Linked DNA regions of Homo sapiens: region 2 is linked to region 1. The links come from fine-mapping of genetic effects on gene expression. Tissue or cell type: substantia nigra. Region 1 holds a variant in brackets; the other region holds the start of a gene. All regions are shown on one strand. Distances are from middle to middle.

What was found. PIP is the estimated chance that this variant, and not a neighbour inherited with it, causes the effect.
Region 2: RPS28 starts here. The variant in region 1 is fine-mapped to the expression of RPS28 in substantia nigra (Braineac2, PIP 0.95).

What each region holds. Positions count from the first base shown.
Region 1 is chr19:9,046,817-9,054,916 of GRCh38, reverse strand. The region is part of intron 1 of MUC16 (mucin 16, cell surface associated); the gene reads left to right. Among named protein-coding and RNA genes, the nearest start is that of MUC16, 15 kb to the left of the region's middle. RefSeq lists enhancers at 1-352, 4,455-4,954. The variant AT/T (reference allele first, on the strand shown) is at 3,823.
Region 2 is chr19:8,316,901-8,324,987 of GRCh38, reverse strand. RPS28 (ribosomal protein S28) reads right to left here and starts at 3,492. Exons shown (of 4, transcript NM_001031.5): 1 at 3,419-3,492; 2 at 3,285-3,332; 3 at 2,897-3,035; 4 at 1,648-2,716. The coding sequence starts at 3,457. The coding sequence ends at 2,913. NDUFA7 (NADH:ubiquinone oxidoreductase subunit A7) reads left to right here and starts at 3,613. Exons shown (of 4, transcript NM_005001.5): 1 at 3,613-3,680; 2 at 4,082-4,131. The coding sequence starts at 3,630. KANK3 (KN motif and ankyrin repeat domains 3) reads left to right here. Exons shown (of 11, transcript NM_198471.3): 8 at 1-37; 9 at 158-358; 10 at 441-539; 11 at 2,066-2,404. The coding sequence ends at 2,149. RefSeq lists enhancers at 1,624-2,589, 2,590-3,557, 3,464-3,703, 3,558-4,525, 4,526-5,493.

The sequences.
Region 1 (8,100 bases):
TGGAGGTGGAAACAGAGAAGCTTGAGAGTAAATAGAGGGAGTTTGTAATCCCTCTCCCACTTCCCCGCCCTGGTTTCATCCCTCTCCCACCTCCCCGCCCTGGTTTCATCCCTCTCCCACCTCCCCGTCCTGGTTTCATCCCCCTCCCTCTCCCGCCCTGGTTGGGTGGAAGGGATGAGAAGCGGCAGACAGAAGAGAGAGAAGGAACTGGGGGCAGTGGCTCACACCTGTAATCCCAGCACTTTGGGAGGCGGAGGCGGGAGGATCACTTGCACCCAGGAGTTCGATACCAGCTTGGAAAACAGTGAAACCCCATCTCCATCAAAAAAAAGAACAAAACAAAAATTATCCAGGTGCGTGCCTATAATCGCAGCTACTTGAGAAGCTGAGGCAGAAGAATTGCTTGAACTCGGGAGGCAGCCGTTGCAGTGAGCCAAGGTCATGCCATTAGCCTCCAGACTGGGCAACAGAGTGAGACTCCAACTCAACAACCACCACCACAACAACAAAAAAGGAGACAGATGGAGAGAGAATCAGATGAGGGAAGAGTGAGGAGAAAGGGGAGAGAGACAAAGGAAGTGAGGAGGAGAAAGAAGGAAGAGGGAGGGGACTGTGAAGGGAAAGTAAATTTCGGGGTCCCCAGATTGTGTCCGGAATTGGTTCCTTCCGGTGGGTTCTTGGTCTTGCTGACTTCAAGAATGAAACCGCAGACCGTTGCAGTGAGTGTTACAGTTCTTAAAGATGGTGTGTCCCGAGTTCGTTCCTTCAGATGTTCAGATGTGTCCGGAGTTTCTTCCTTCCAGTGGGTTCCTGGTCTGGCTGACTTCAGGAGTGAAGCTGTAGACCTTCACAGTGAGTGTTAACAGCTCATAAAAGTAGTGTGGGCTCAAAGAGTGAGCAGCAGGAAGATTTATTATGAAGAACAAAAGAACAAAACTTCCACAATGTGGAAGGGGACATGAGCAGGTTGGCACTGCTGGTTCAGATGGCCAGCTTTTATTACCTTATTTGGCCCCAACCACTTCCTGCTGATTGGTCCATTTTACAGATCGCTGATTGGTCCATTTTACAGAGGGCTGATTGGTCCGTTTTTACAGAGCGCGGATAGGTATGTTTTTACAGAGGGCTGATTGGTGCGTTTACAAACCTTTAGCTAGACACAGAGCGCTGATTGGTGTGTTTTTACAGAGTCCTGATTGGTGCATTTACAAACCTTTAGCTAGACACAGAATGCTGATTGGTGCGTTTACAATCCTTTAGCTAAATAGAAAAGTTCTCCAAGTCCCCACCTGACCCAGAAGCCCAGCGGGCTTCACCTCTCAAAATCATTAAGCTAGAGCGAAAAGTCAAGCTGGGAACTGCTCAGGGCCAACCTGCCTCTCATTCTATTCAGAGTCCCTCCTGTGCTCACTTAGATACATTCATATCTGATTGGCTCCTTTGGAGAGGCTCATCAGAAACTCAAAAGAAGGCAACCTTTTGTCTCTTTATCTACCTATGACCTGGTTTTTGTTTTGAGATGGGATCTCATTGTGTCACCCGGGCTGGAGTGCAATGGCACAAATACAGCTCACTGCAGCCTCCACCTCCTAGGCTCAAGCGATCTTCCCATCTCAGCCTCCCGAGTAGCTGGAACTACAGGTGCACATCACCATGCTTGGCTAATACAAATTAAAAAAAAAAAATTAAGTTCCTCACCCATAGTACATAGCATTATGGCTACAACTGTGGTAGCCCCAGTAGCTGCATTGCAAGAGCTCACTAGCTGTGCATGGCTAGTGAATGATGTAAAACACACCCAAGGCTTAGGAAATGTCCAACGGTCCATTAAACAGTGACACTCTCTAGCGAGACTTCCAGGAGCTGCTTAGCCAATTAGTAGCTCCACGACGACCTTAGGCAGATTATTGTACTTCTCCTTACCTCTCTCAGGTTCCTCATCTGTGAAATGAGCTTAATAATAGTACTATCAAAATGTTGTTGTGAGGGCCTGGTGCAGTAGATAATGCCTGTAATCCCAGCACTTTGGGAGGCCAAGGCAGGTAGATCACTTGAGGTCAGGAGTTCGAGACCAGCCTGGCCAATATGGTGAAACCCCATCGCTACTAAAAATGCAAAAACGAGCTGGGCACGGTGCCAGGTGCCTGTAATCTCAGCACGTTGGGAGGTCGAGGCGGGCAGATCACTTGAGATCAGGAGTTTGAGACCAGCCTGGCCAACATGGTGAAACCCTGTCTCTACTTAAAACACAAAAACTAGCTGGGCATGGTAGTGCACTCCTGTAGTCCCAGCTACTCAGGGGGCTGAGGTAGGAGAATCGCTTGAACTCAGGAGTTAGTGGTTGCAGTGAACCAAGATCGCACCACTGTACTCCAGCCTGGGTGACAGAGTGAGACCCCGTTTGAAAAAAAAAAAAGTTGTTGTGAGAATTCTATGATTTAATATATTAAGAGTTTTTGGAAAGATGCCTGACATGGTAAATCCTTACTATCATTATACTAAGTTGTTAATATTTATATCATGTTATTAATATTATTATGTATTGTAAGTATATATGTGTGTGTGTATATATATATATAAATATATATATATATTTTTTTTTGAGACAGAGTCTCACTTTGTCGCCAAAGCTGGAGTGCAGTGGCACAATCTCGGCTCACTGCAACCTCCACCTACTGGGTTCAAGTAATTCTCTGCCTCAGCCTCCTGGGTAGCTGGGATTACAGGCACCTGCCACCATGTCCGGCTAATTTTTGTATTTTTAGTACAGATGGGGTTTCACCATCTTGGCCAGACGGGTCTTGAACTCCTAACCTCGTGATCCACCCACCTTGGCCTCCCAAGGTGCTGTGATTACAGGCGTAAGCCACCTCGCCCGACTTATTTATTTATTTATTTATTTCTGAGACAGCATCTCACTCTATTGCCCAGGCTGGATTACAGTGGTGCTATCTCTGCTCACTGCAACCTCTGCTTCCTGAGTTCAACTGATTCTCCTGCCTCAGCCTCCCGAGTAGTTGGCGCCTGCCACAACGCCCGGCTAATTTTTGTATTTTTAGTAGAGACAGGGGTTTCAACATGTTGTCCAGGCTGGCCTCGAACTCCTGACCTCAGGTGATCTGCTCACCTCGGCCTCCCAAGTGCTGGGATTACAGGCGTGAGCCACTGCACCTGGCTAAATGTCCCATTAGCTTTAATCCTCATTCAGTACAATTATGTGCTGTATAACAACATTTCAGTCAATGACAGACTGCATATATGACAGTGGTCCCAAGAGATTGTAATACTGTATTTTTACTGTCCTTTCTCTATGTTTAAATACATGTAGATACACAAACGCTTATCATTGGCCTGGTGCAGTGGCTCATATCCATAATCCCAGGACTTTGGGAGGCCAAGGTGAGAGGATCACTTGAGCCCAGGACTTCAAGACTAGCCTGGGCAACATAGTGAGACCCATCTCTAGTTGTAAATATATTTTAAGTTAAAATATAAATTTTAAGGCTGGGCGCAGTGGCTCACACCTATAATCCTAGCAATTTGGGAGGCTGAGGCGGGTGGATCACCTGAGATCAGGAGTTCGAGACCAGCCTGGCCAACGTGGTGAAACGCCATCTCTACTAAAAGTACAAAATTAGCCGGGTGAGGTGCCAGGTGCCTGTAATCCCAGCTACTGGGGAGACTGAGGCAGGAGAATCACTTGAACCTGGGGGCAGCAGTTGCAGTGAGCTGAGATTGTGCCACTTCACTGCAGCCTGGGCGAAAGAGCAAAACTCCATCTGGAAAAAAAAAATATATATATTTATATATATATATATATAT[AT/T]ATATATATATATATATATATATATATATATGTAAAATCTAGAGGTCATACCCTACAGCCTGGGTGTGTAGTTGCTATACCATGTAGGTTTGTATAAGTACACTCTATGGTATTTGCACAATGACAAAATTGCCTAGTGATGCATTTCTCAGGATATATCCCCGTTGCTGAGTGAGGCATGACTTGTACCTAGAAGGTACACATTTTTTCAGTCCATGCTATATCTGGGCAAACTGAAGTTCAGAGAGGTTTTGTCAGTCCCCAAAGGTCAATAGCATTGAAGAGGTGAAACTGGGAGGTGATCTGGGCTTGTGAGATTCCAATGCCCACGCCTGTCCACTGGATCATGAGCTCTCTTGAGGCAGAAGCCTGTGCAAGGGTCCTGGGGTAGACATCACAGGGTGTGTCTGGCATGTGATGCATTGGTCAGTTTTGCTGGAATGCAGGGTATGTGGAAGGGAGGGGTGTGGTGGAGACAGATGAGAAATAAAGTCAGAAATAAAGTAGAAGCTAGTCAGACATTGAGCAGCAACCTGTGGATTTGCAGCTCCATTTAAGGAACTACAGAGTGCTCTAAAAAGCATCTAATCTGAGACAGCCTGCCCCTTAGCTCCTGCTGGTGAAAACAGCAGTTCACATCTAGGGAGCAAGAACGATTGTGCTGGCCAGGTGCACTGGCTTACTTCTGTAATCCTAGCCCTTTGGGAGGCCGAGGTGGGCGGATCACTTGAGGTCAGGAGTTGGAGACCAGCCCGGGAAACATGGCAAAACCCTGTCTCTACTAAAAAAACAAAAATTAGCCGGGCGTGGTGGTGGGTGTCTGTAATCCCAGCTACTTGGGAGGCTGAGGCAGGAGAAACACTTGAACCCGGGAGGCAGAGGTGGCAGAGAGCCGAGATCGTACCACTGCACTCCAGCCTGGGGGGTAAAGCGAGACTCCGTAACAAACAAACAAACAAACAAACAAACAAACAAACAGATTGTGCCGAGACCCATGCCTGTGGTCCATCTCACAGAGTCCTTACAAGAACCTTTTTCTTTTTTTTTTGAGACAGAGTCTAGCTCTTTCACCCAAGCTGGAGTGCAGTGGCACGATCTCAGCTCCCTGCAACCTCCACCTCCCGGGTTCAAGGAATTCTCCTGCCTCAGCTTCCCAAGTAGCTGGGATTACAGGCACGCACCACCACGCCTGGCTATTTTTTGCATTTTTTTAGTAGAGATGGGGTTTTGCCATGTTGGCCAGGCTGGTCTCTGACTCCTGACCTCAGATGATCCGATCCACCTGCTTTGGCCTCTCAAAGTGTTGGGATTTCAGGCGTGAGCCACCACGCCAGGCCAATAACTCTTTTGTTTTTATTTTTGAGACAGAGTCTCTCTCTTAGCCAGGCTGGAGTGTAGTGGCACGATCTTGGCTCACTGCAACCTCCTCCTCCTGGGTTCCAGCGATTCTCGTGCCTTAACCTCCCAAGGAGCTGAGACTATGGGCACGCACCACCATGCCCAGCTAATTTTTTTTTTTTTTGAGATGGAATCTCACTCTGTCACCCAGGCTGGAGGGCAGTGGCGTGATCTCGGCTCACTGCAAACTCCACCTCCCGGGTTCAAGCAATTCTCCTGCCTCAGCCTCCCGAGTAGCTGGGATTACAGGCGCCCGCCAACACGTCCAACTAATTTTTGTATTTTTAGTAGAGATGGGATTTCACCGTGTTGGCCAGGCTGGTCCCAAACACCTGATCTTGTGATCTGCCTGCCTTGGCCTCCCAAAGTGCTGGGATTACAGGCGTGAGCCACTGTGCCCTGCCACCTGGCTAATTTTTTTTTTTTTTTTGAGATGGAGTTTCGCTCTTGTTGCCCAGCCTGGAGTGCAATGGCGCGATCTCGGCTCACTGCAACCTCCACCTCCCGGGTTCAAGTGATTCTCCTGTCTCAGTCTCCCAAGTAGCTGGGATTACAGGCGAGTGCCACCACGCCCGGCTAATTTTTGTATTTATAGTAGAATCAGGGTTTCATCATTTTGGTCAGGCTGGTCTCGAATTCATGACCTCAGGTGACCTGCCCACCTTGGCCTCCCAAAGTGCTGGGATTATAAGCATGAGCCACTGTGCCCGGCACTAATTTTTATACTTTTAGTAGAAATTGGGGTCTCACCATGTTGCCCAGGTGGGTCTCAAACTCCTGGCCTCAAGCAATCCTCCCATCTCAGCCTCCCAAAGTGCTGGGATTATAGGTGTGAGCCACCTTGCCTGACCCAGTTGTGTTTGTTTCTTTTTTCTTTTTGAGACAGAGTCTCACTCTGTCCTCCAGGCTGGAGTGCAGTGGTGTGATCTCAGCTCATACAACCTCTGCATCCTGGGTTCAAACGACTCTCTTGCCTCAGCCTCCCTAGTAGCTGGGATTACAAGCACATACCACCATGCCTGGCTAATTTTTCTTTTTTTTTTGAGACGAAGTCTTGTTCTGTCACCAGGCTGGAGTGCAAGTGGTGTGATCTCGGCTCACTGCAACCTCCGCCTCCTGGGTTCAAGCCATTCTCCTGCCTCAGCCTCCCACGTAGCTGGGACTACAGGCGCGCCACCACACCCAGCTAATTTTTGTATTTTTAGGAGAGACAGGGTTTCACCATGTTGGCCAGGATTGTCTCCATCTCTTGAGCTCGTGACCTCGTGATCTACCTGCCTCGGCCCCAAAAAGTGCTGGGATTACAGGCACGAGCCACCAAGCCTGGCCTAATTTTTTGTATTTTTAGTAGAGATAGGGTTTCACCGTGTTGGCCAGGCTGGTCTCAAACTCCTCACCTCAAGTTATCTGCCCGCCTTGGCCTCTGAAAGTCTTGGGATTACAGGTGTTGAGCCATTGTGCCTGGCCACAGACCTGGCTTTTATACTTTTCTTTTTCTTTTTTTTTGAGACGGAGTTTCACTCTGTTGCCCAGGCTGGAGTGCAGTGGCATGATCTCGGCTCACTGCAACCTCTGCCTCCTGGGTTCAAGTGATTCTCCTGCCCCAGCCTCCCGAGTAGCTGGGATTACAGGTGCACACCACCACACCTGGCTAATTTTTTTTTTGGTAGAGATAGGGTTTCACCATGTTGGCCAGGCTGGTCTCGAACTCCTGACCTTAAGTGATCAGCCCACCTCGGCCTCCCAAAGTGCTGGATTACAGGCATGAGCCATCGCATCTGGACTGACTTTTATATTTTTTATAAGAAGTCCGTGATCTTTTCCTCCTTACAAAAATTCAATAACCATTCATTCAATCGTTCATTCAATAAATATTTATTGATGATCTATAATATGGTAAGGAGAGACTAAGAGGTTAATATAAGAGGAAATACAACTATGGTTAGTAATAATCACATTAAGCATTGTTATTATTGGTCGTATTTAGATAAGAATTGATTACAACAGCTCGTTCCACCGTTAATTTGATATTTACACTATGACATCACAAATGGAGAGCTTTACATGAATAATCCCATTTAATCCTCTTAACAGATCTGTGAGATCAGATCGTCTTTTTTTCTTTTTAATAATTTTTGTTGTTTGCTACATGACATTGTGGGATACATGCAGATGGTGCAATGGTTACTACAATGAAGCAGTCATGTATCACTTTCTATTTGTATATGTTTTGTAGTTGAGGAAACTGAGGCTTGGAGAGATTAAGCAACTTGCTCAAGGAAATATAGCTGTGGGTGATAGAGGTGGGGCTTGGGGGTTTGATCCAGGGGTGGGGTGGTCCACACCCTTCATCCACCAGTAGCTTGAGGGTGGTTTTTCAACGGAAGGAGACAGGAGTGAGGAGAACATCTGGGAGTGGCTAAGGTGGAGAGAAAAATCTGAGATGAGAGAGAGAGGGCCAGGCGCAGTGGCTCTCACCTGTAACCCTAGCACTTTTGGAGGCAGAGGTGGGAAGAGTACTTGAGTCCAGGAGTCCAGGAGCTCAAGACCAGCCTGGGCAACATGGGAAAACCCCATTTCTACTAAAAATACAAAACATTAGCTAGGCATGGTTGTACGTGCCTATAGTCTTAGCTACTTGGGAGGCTGAGCTGGGAGGATCCCTTGAGCCCAGAAGTTCAAGAGCAGCCTGGGCAACATGGCAAAACAAGGAAGAAAGAAAGAGAGAAAGAGAGAGAAAAAGAGGGAGGGAGGGAGGCAGGGAGGAAGGAAGGAAGGAAGGAGAAAGAGAAAAAGAAAGAGAAGGAAGGACGGAAAAGAAGGAAGGAAGCAGAAAGGGAGAAAGAAAGAGAAGGAAGGAAGATGAAAGAAAGAGAAAG
Region 2 (8,087 bases), 730 kb after region 1:
CTTCTGCATGGGTGATGTCAATGCCAAGGCCAGTCAGGTGCGTGGGCGCCCCCACTGTGGCTCTCAGCCAGGAGTCACTTCCACTTTGGGAGTCAACCTGTGACCTCCCTTCCCTGAGCCTACCCCAGCCTGTTCCCTCTTCCTCCCCACTCCCCAGACGGGGCAGACAGCCCTCATGCTGGCCATCAGCCATGGCCGACAGGACATGGTGGCAACCCTACTGGCGTGTGGGGCTGATGTGAATGCGCAGGATGCGGATGGGGCCACAGCGCTGATGTGTGCCAGTGAGTATGGGCGCCTGGACACCGTGCGGCTGCTGCTCACCCAGCCAGGCTGTGACCCTGCCATCCTGGACAATGTAAGACCCCACAATGGGGCTGGCATCTTGGGGGGTGCCCATGGCTTGGCTCAGGGATCTGACTGTCCCTAACGTTCCACAGGAGGGCACCAGTGCCCTGGCCATCGCCCTGGAGGCTGAGCAGGATGAGGTGGCCGCTCTGCTACATGCCCACCTGAGCTCGGGCCAGCCCGACACCCAGGTGAGCACAGCTCTGGAAGAAACAAACTTTCCCAGCTGCAAATTCAGTTTGCAGAGGATAGTAAATATGCCCTGAGCCTCCCTTTCTGCTCCCCAAAGGTGGCACCAGGGGTGCAGAACCAGTGTCTGGATTCTCCTATGTGGCTGCTTTTCTTTTTTGGGAGACAGGGTCTCACTCTGTAACCCGGGTTGGGGTGTAGTGGTGTGATCAGAGCTCACTGCAGCCACAAACTCCTGAGCTCAAGGGATCCTTCTGCCTCAGCATCCTCAAGTGCTGGGATTACAGGTGTGAAACCAGAGCGCCTGGCAGGGGCTGGGATTTGATGTGAAAGCAGCAAAACCCCAGTGAGGTTGACACTACCCCAGGTCATGAGACTGAGTCCTCAAGGGGGGAAGTAACCTAAGGTCACAGAGACCTAGCTAAGACCTTTCATGCATGCCCCTGGGCTCCTGTTACCTACTGCCAGGGAGGCTCTTATCAAAGGAAAAAGGAGCCCTTTGGCATCAGGCAGGGTGGGGAAGGGGGTCCAGAGCTTCAGAACTGGAGACTGGGTGAGTTTGCAGAACACATTAACCCCCAACACCACTATACTCTGATGGCCAAGTGCCAGGATGTTTTAGCACTTTCATAATCCAAGTTATCTAATCAGCCCACTCATCCTGTACAGGTTGACCCCAATTTACCATGGCTCCACTTACCATTTTTTATTTATTTTTGAGATGGAGTCTTCCTCTGTCACCGAGGCTAGAGTGCAGTGGGGCGACTGCAGCTCACTGCAACCTCCACCTCTGGGGTTCAAGCGATTCTTCTGCCTCAGCCTCTCAAGTAGTTGGGACTACAGGCACGTGCTACCATGCCCAGCTAATTTTTTTTTTTCATTTGAAGACAAGAGTCTCGTTCTGTCACCCAGGCTGGAGTGCAGCGGCACAATCTCAGTTCACTGCAACCTCCACCTCCCAGGTTCAAGAAATTCTCCTGCCTCAGCCTCCCAAGTAGCTGGGATTACAACAGCTGTGAGCCATCGCGCCTGGCACAACTTACAATTTTTTGACTTCATGATAGCATAAAAGCAATGTGTGCTTAGTAAAAACCACACTTCAGCAGAGTATTCAATAAATTACATAAGACATTCAATACTTTATTAAAACAGGCTTCGTGTTAGACGAGTTTCCCCAACTACAGGCTAAGGCGTTCTGAACAAGCTTAAGATGGACCATGCTAAGCTGTGATGTTTGGGAGATTAGGTGTATTAAACACATTTCAACTTGCAATACTTTCAACCTATGATGTACTCACCGGAATGTAACCCATTGTAAACTGAGGAACACCTGTACTCACCCCACTGGAAGGGATGTGGGAGGAAGGTCAAGCGCCTCTTCCAGGTCAGAAGGGGCAGAGGTTGGATACAAACCAGGCAGCCTGGGTCCATGGTAAAAGAACCTCCACTAAGTGAGGCTGGGGCTGAATCCCACGTTTCCTGCCTCAAGGAGATTGCAGCAGGCCCCCCTCTTTTCCCCTCTCTCCAGAGCGAGTCACCCCCTGGCTCCCAGACAGCCACACCTGGTGAAGGAGAATGCGGTGACAATGGAGAGAACCCCCAGGTTCAGTAAGCTGCCTCGTCTGGCTCACTACACCTAGCTGTGGGGAGATCTCCTCGTCAGTCACCTCAGCCTTTGGCGCACAGAAGGGTCCAGGGTCCCCTGCTCAGAGGCTAACACTGGCCGAAGAGAAAGGCAATTTCAGTTGGGGTGACTGTGGCAGGAAGGGGCTCACTCTGGCCCCACCAAGGTGAGGTGGGGACCAAGTGATAGAGCCCTGATCCACCCACTCTCTGAAACTTCTTTGCTAATAAAACATTCCTACTACGCTTGTGTTTTGTTTGGGGTAGAGGGTGCAATCGACAAACACGACCCCCCGCCTCAAAAAGGAAAAGCTTCGTTTGGCAAGACCGCACGGCCAGGATTTCCAGAGTGCGGAGGATCGGTGACCGCCTGGGAGCCACTCAAGAAACCTGGAGAAACCCTAGTCGTATAACCCAGACAAGAACCTGAGTTAACTTGAAACACAAACGCTTTATTTAAAGGAGCATCTCAGTTACGTGTGGCGGACAAAAAAAAGGAGCAGACTGTGACAGACCATTCCCATCGGCCAAGTGGTCGAACCCGACATCCAAGACCCTGTAAACAGACCCAAACATGAGATGTTGACAGGCCCCGCAGCAATTGGCAAACTCCCGCCTCCCTCTTGTCAGTCTCTGTATGTAGACTCTGCCTCCCAAACCCTCTCACCCTGGGCTTAACGAAGCCTCCCTACCACCAACCAAAGGTCTATCAAAGGGGTGTCCTCTTTGCACCCACCAGCGAGCAGCCAAGCTCAGCGCAACCTCCGGGCTTCTCGCTCTGACTCCAAAAGGGTGAGCACGTCGCCCTCGCGCACGGGGCCTTTTACATTGCGGATGATGGATCGGCTCGTGTCGTCCATGAATTCCACGCGCACCTACGGGTCCCCACCGGAGTGGAGGAAGAAGTAAGGGCGGGCCGCGGAAAGGCACCGCGGAGTGGGAAGCAGATATGAATTCAGAGAACGTGTCGGGGCCAGAATACAGATCGTTAAAGGGAACCATCAGAACCCCGTGATGAAATGAGAATCGGCTCCCGGATTCCGGCTGGCAGGGGTTAGGGCAGGGTAGAGGTCACATCAGGGTTTAGGTCGCCGGCAGTCGGCCAAATGCCCCCACCCGATTACCTGCGTGCACTGTCCCTGAGAACCGGTCCTGCCCAGGACCTTGGTGACCTGGAGGAAAGAAGCTGGGTTCAGACCCGGCCCGTTTGGCTCCTCTAATCCCTCCCCCTGCCCCCAAATTCGGGCCCCCACCTCACCCTGGCCAGCTTGATAGGCTGCACACGGCTGGTGTCCATGATGGCGGCGCGGCGGCGGTCTGGCGGAGAGGAGTCACGTGCTTCGGGGAGAGCCTTTATAGGACGTTCTAGCACCGCCCACTCCCGTCTCGCGATACCACGCCGCGTCTTTCCCAGCAGCCCCAGCGGTGGAGACGTCACCGGCTGCGCCCTTCAGTATCGCGGACGGAAGATGGCGTCCGCCACCCGTCTCATCCAGCGGCTGCGGAACTGGGCGTCCGGGGTGCGCGGGGCGGACAGGGCTGCACCATGGGGGGCTTCGGGCTCCGTGTGTCCGGGACCCGCTCCTGCTCCTCACCTCCCTCCTAAGCCGGGACCCTTCGCTCTCCCCGAATCTCCCTGGGAACCCCCAGCTAGTCACCCCTTCAGCCCGGGACCCTCTCCTGGCCTGGGAACCACTCAGGCCTGGGATTTCCCCAGTCCCCGACCTTCTTAGCCTTGGATCTGTGGGCCCGGACTCTGGCTTTGCTCTTCACCTGCAGGACCCACATCCGTTTCCCCGAGTGTTCATCCCCTGCCTTCCCTTAAAATGCGCATCCCCGGACCATCCCTGGTCCCTTGCCCTCTCCTTTCCTCTCTCCTGGGGTGCCTTGCAGGCCGACCTCTCCTCTCCTCTTCCCACAGCATGACCTGCAGGGGAAGCTGCAGCTACGCTACCAGGAGATCTCCAAGCGGTGAGCAGGCCCCGCTCGCTGCCCAGCCTCTGGCTCTGTCCTTTCTCCACCAAAAACGAAATCTGTGTTCCTTTAGACCCCTGAAACGGAGGGCTGACATCCTGCCACCAGTCCCCTGCCAGGCTGTGGAGGCAGAGGTTTGCCTTTAACCTTGCTGAACTCCGGAGGACAGCCCTCCTGAAACAGCGAGGCCGGGCGTGCATTCTGACTGGCAATCAGGCTAGATTTGCAGTGCTCAGCGTGGCCATGTTAGTCAGTGTTATCCCCAAGCTACAGATGAAAAAAGAGGTCCAGAGAGGCGAAATCATTTGCCTCAAGTCACTCAGAAGCTAAAAAGTGGCAGCGGGGACTTGAACCCAGAAGTGTCCTGATTTCAGACTCATTTATATTAAAATATTAGTTGATATTTACAAGCCCCCGTCATGTATGACCTCAGCCTTGGGTTTAACTTTGTGAACCAGGAAAGTTCTTATCCACATTCTTTCATGGACGCCACATTCTAGGGAGAAGCATAGTAGGGAAACAAACACAGCAGGTAGTATTGTTCTGGAATGCTTTGAAGACAAAACAAAATAAGTGGAAGCTGGAGGGTGGCTACGTAAAGTCAGATGATTGGGAAAGATCTTTCTTTGGAAATTGACAGTTGAGTCCCCTGAATGATGGGAAGGACCCATTCAAAGAATAATTATTGAAAAAACATTCTGACCGGGCGCGGTGGCTCACGCTTGTGATCCCAGCACTTGGGGAGGCTGAGGCAGGCGGATCACGAGGTCAGGAGTTTGAGACCAGCCTGGCCAACACAGTGAAACACAGTAAAACCCCCTCTCTACTAGAAATACAAAAATTAGCCGGGCGTGGTGGCGCGCGCGGGTAGTCCCAGCTACTCGGGAGGTTGAGGCAGGAGAATCGCTTGAACACAGGAGGTGGATATTGCAGTGAGCTGAGATCGCACCACTGCACTCCAGCCTGGGTGACAGAACAACACTCTGTCTCAAAAAAATAAAAAAGAAAAAACATTCTGAGCAGAGGGAACAGGAAGGGCTAAGAGTGTCAGGCTGGACAGAGCCTGAGTGGAAGGAGGCCAGTATGGATGGAACCCATTGAGGGAAAGGGATAATGGTATAATCTATGAAGTCAAAGGGTAGGCAGAGGTAAGGCAGTCATTGAGGATTATAATGAAAGGAAGAAAAATAGCATTAAAATAATGAAATTTATGTAAATGCCTATATGTTGTGACTAATTCCAAATATTAGAAGTATCAAACTTTGTTTTCAACTTTTTTTTTTTTTTTTTTTTGAGACGGAGTTTTGCTCTTATTGCCCAGGCTGGAGTGCAATGGCACAATCTCAGCTCACTGCAATCTCCATCTCCCGGGTTCAAGCGATTCTCCTGCCTCAGCCTCCCAAGTAGCTGGGATTACAGGCATGTGCCACCACGCCTGACTAATTTTTTGTATTTTTAGTAGAAACGGGGTTTCACCATGTTGGCCAGTCTGGTCTCGAACTCCTGACTTCATAATCCGCCTGCCTCGGCCTCCCAAAGTGCTGGGATTACAGGTGTGAGCCACTGCGCCCGGCTTGTTTTCAACTTTAACGTTAAGTTCTGGGGTACATTTGCAGTTTTGTTACAAAGGTAAACGTGCCATGGTAGTTTGCTGCAAAGATCAAAGATCAACCTATCACTTAGGTATTAAGCCCAGCATCCATTAGCTATTCTTCCTGATGCTCTCTCCCCCCCAACCCCCGACCCCCCTAGTTGGCTTTCTATCAGGGTAGTTGTGGGCCAGTTGAGGAAATGGCTTTGTGAAAGTTTTGACTTTTTTAGGATGACGGCACCCTCTAGTGATTCATCTGGATGTTTTATTGGTCTTTTTTTTTTTTTCTTTTTTGAGACAGAGTCTCACTCTGTCGCCAAGCTGGAGTGCAGTGGCGGATCTGAGATCACTGCAATCTCCGCCTCCCGGGTTCAAGTGATTCTCCTGCCTCAGCCTCCCGAGTAGCTGGGGCTACAGGCGTGCACCACCACACCCAGCTAATTTTTGTATTTTTAGTAGTGACGGGGTTTCACCATGTTTGCCAGGATGGTCTGATCTCTTGACCTCGTGATCTGCCCGCCTCGGCCTCCCAAAGTGCTGGGATTACAGGTGTGAGCCACCGCGCCTGGCCTTTTTTTTTTTTTTTTTTTTTTTTTTTTGTAAGACTGGGTTTCTGTGACCCAGGCTGGAGTGCAGTGGCACAATCATAGCTCACTGCAGCCTCGAACTTCCAGGCCTAAGTGATCCTCCTGGTCCAGCGTACCAAGTAGCTGGGATTACAGGCACATGTTACCGTGCCTGGCTAATTTTTAAATTTTTGTATAGAGACAAGGTCTTACCATGTTGCCCAAGCTGGTCTTAAACTCCTGGCCTCTGACTGGGCATGGTGGCTCATGCCTGTAATCCCAGCACTTTGGGAGGCCGAGGCAGGCGGATCACAAGGTCAGAAGTTTGAGACCAGCCTGGCCAACATAGTGAAAACCCATCTCTACTAAAAATACAAAAATTAGCCAGCATGGTGGCACACGCCTGTATTCCCAGCTACCTGGGAGGCTGATGCAGGAAAATCGCTTGAACCTGGGAGGCGGAGGTTGCAGTGAGCCGAGATCGCACCACAGCACTCTAGCCTGGGCGACAGAGCGAGACTCCATCTCAAAAAAAAACAAACAAAAAAAACACTCCTGGCCTCAAGCAATCCTTCCACCTTGGCCTCCCAAGGTATGAGCCACCACATCCAGCCTCCTTAAGCAAAGTCTTTCACATAATATATTGCTTTTAATATTAAACATTTTTTACTTTATGTTTCTTATTTTTAAAAAATACAGTGACTAACACTTGTTTTAAGAAAAAGGCCAGGAGTGGTGGCTCACGCCTGTAATCCCAGCACTTTGGGAGGCCAAGGTGAGAGGATAACTTAAGGCCAGGAATTCGACATCAACCTGGGCAACATAGCAAGACCCCCGACTCCACAAAAACAATAGAAAAATTGTTTTTAGCCAGATGTGGTAGTGTGCGCCTGTAGTTCCAGCTACTTGAGAGGCTGAGGCGGGAGCATTGCTTGAGCCCAGGAGGTTGAGGCTGCAGTGAGCTATGATCACACCTCAAGCGATCATATGATTGCATATATCATCCAGGCTGCAGTGCATATGATCACTGCCTCAGAAAAAAATTAAATTCCGGGAAACAGTTCCCAGACAAAAAAGTGACTTAGAAACATGGCTAAGTGGAAACAGATCAATTTACGGTTTTTGCTGTCTTCTCTCCTCCCTCTCTCTGGAAAGCCCGTCTTTTGTTTTGAGCTTTTTTTGTTTTTTGAGATGGAGTCTCGCTCTGTCGCCCAGGCTGGAGTGTAGTGGCGTGATCTCAGCTCACTGCAACCTCTGCCTCCCACCACCATGCTTGGCTAATTTTTGTATTTTAGTAGAGATGGGGTTTGCAGTGTTGGCCAGGCTGGTTTCGAACACCTGACCTCAAGTGATCCACCCACCTCGGCCTCCCAAAGTGCTGGGATTACAGGCATGAGCCACCCTGCCCATCCTTGTTTTGAGCATTTCTTTTAAGGCCTCAGGCTTCCAGGTAAATCCAGCCCAGGGTTTAGTTCAAGCCAAGACCGAGCTCTGTTCACCCCTCTCTGGGCTCCAGAGAGGAGTTGCCTGGCCACATGGTGGCAGGAAATGCAGAGATCTTGACAGGCTCCAAGGCTAAGGTGTTCTTGAATAATGGGCCTTGATCCTAGCAGGGTTCTCCAGAGACTTCCTGAGATAACAGGAAACGCAGGGCGTCCAGAGCCTGGCTTTAGGGGAAAAAGCCACTCAGAGTGGACAAAGTCAAGTGAGGCTGGCTGCCAAGCTCAGCCGTGGGGTGGGGGGCATGGGGACATGTCCCGGGCCTTGGGAGCCTCAGAAAGGGTCCTCTGTACCCT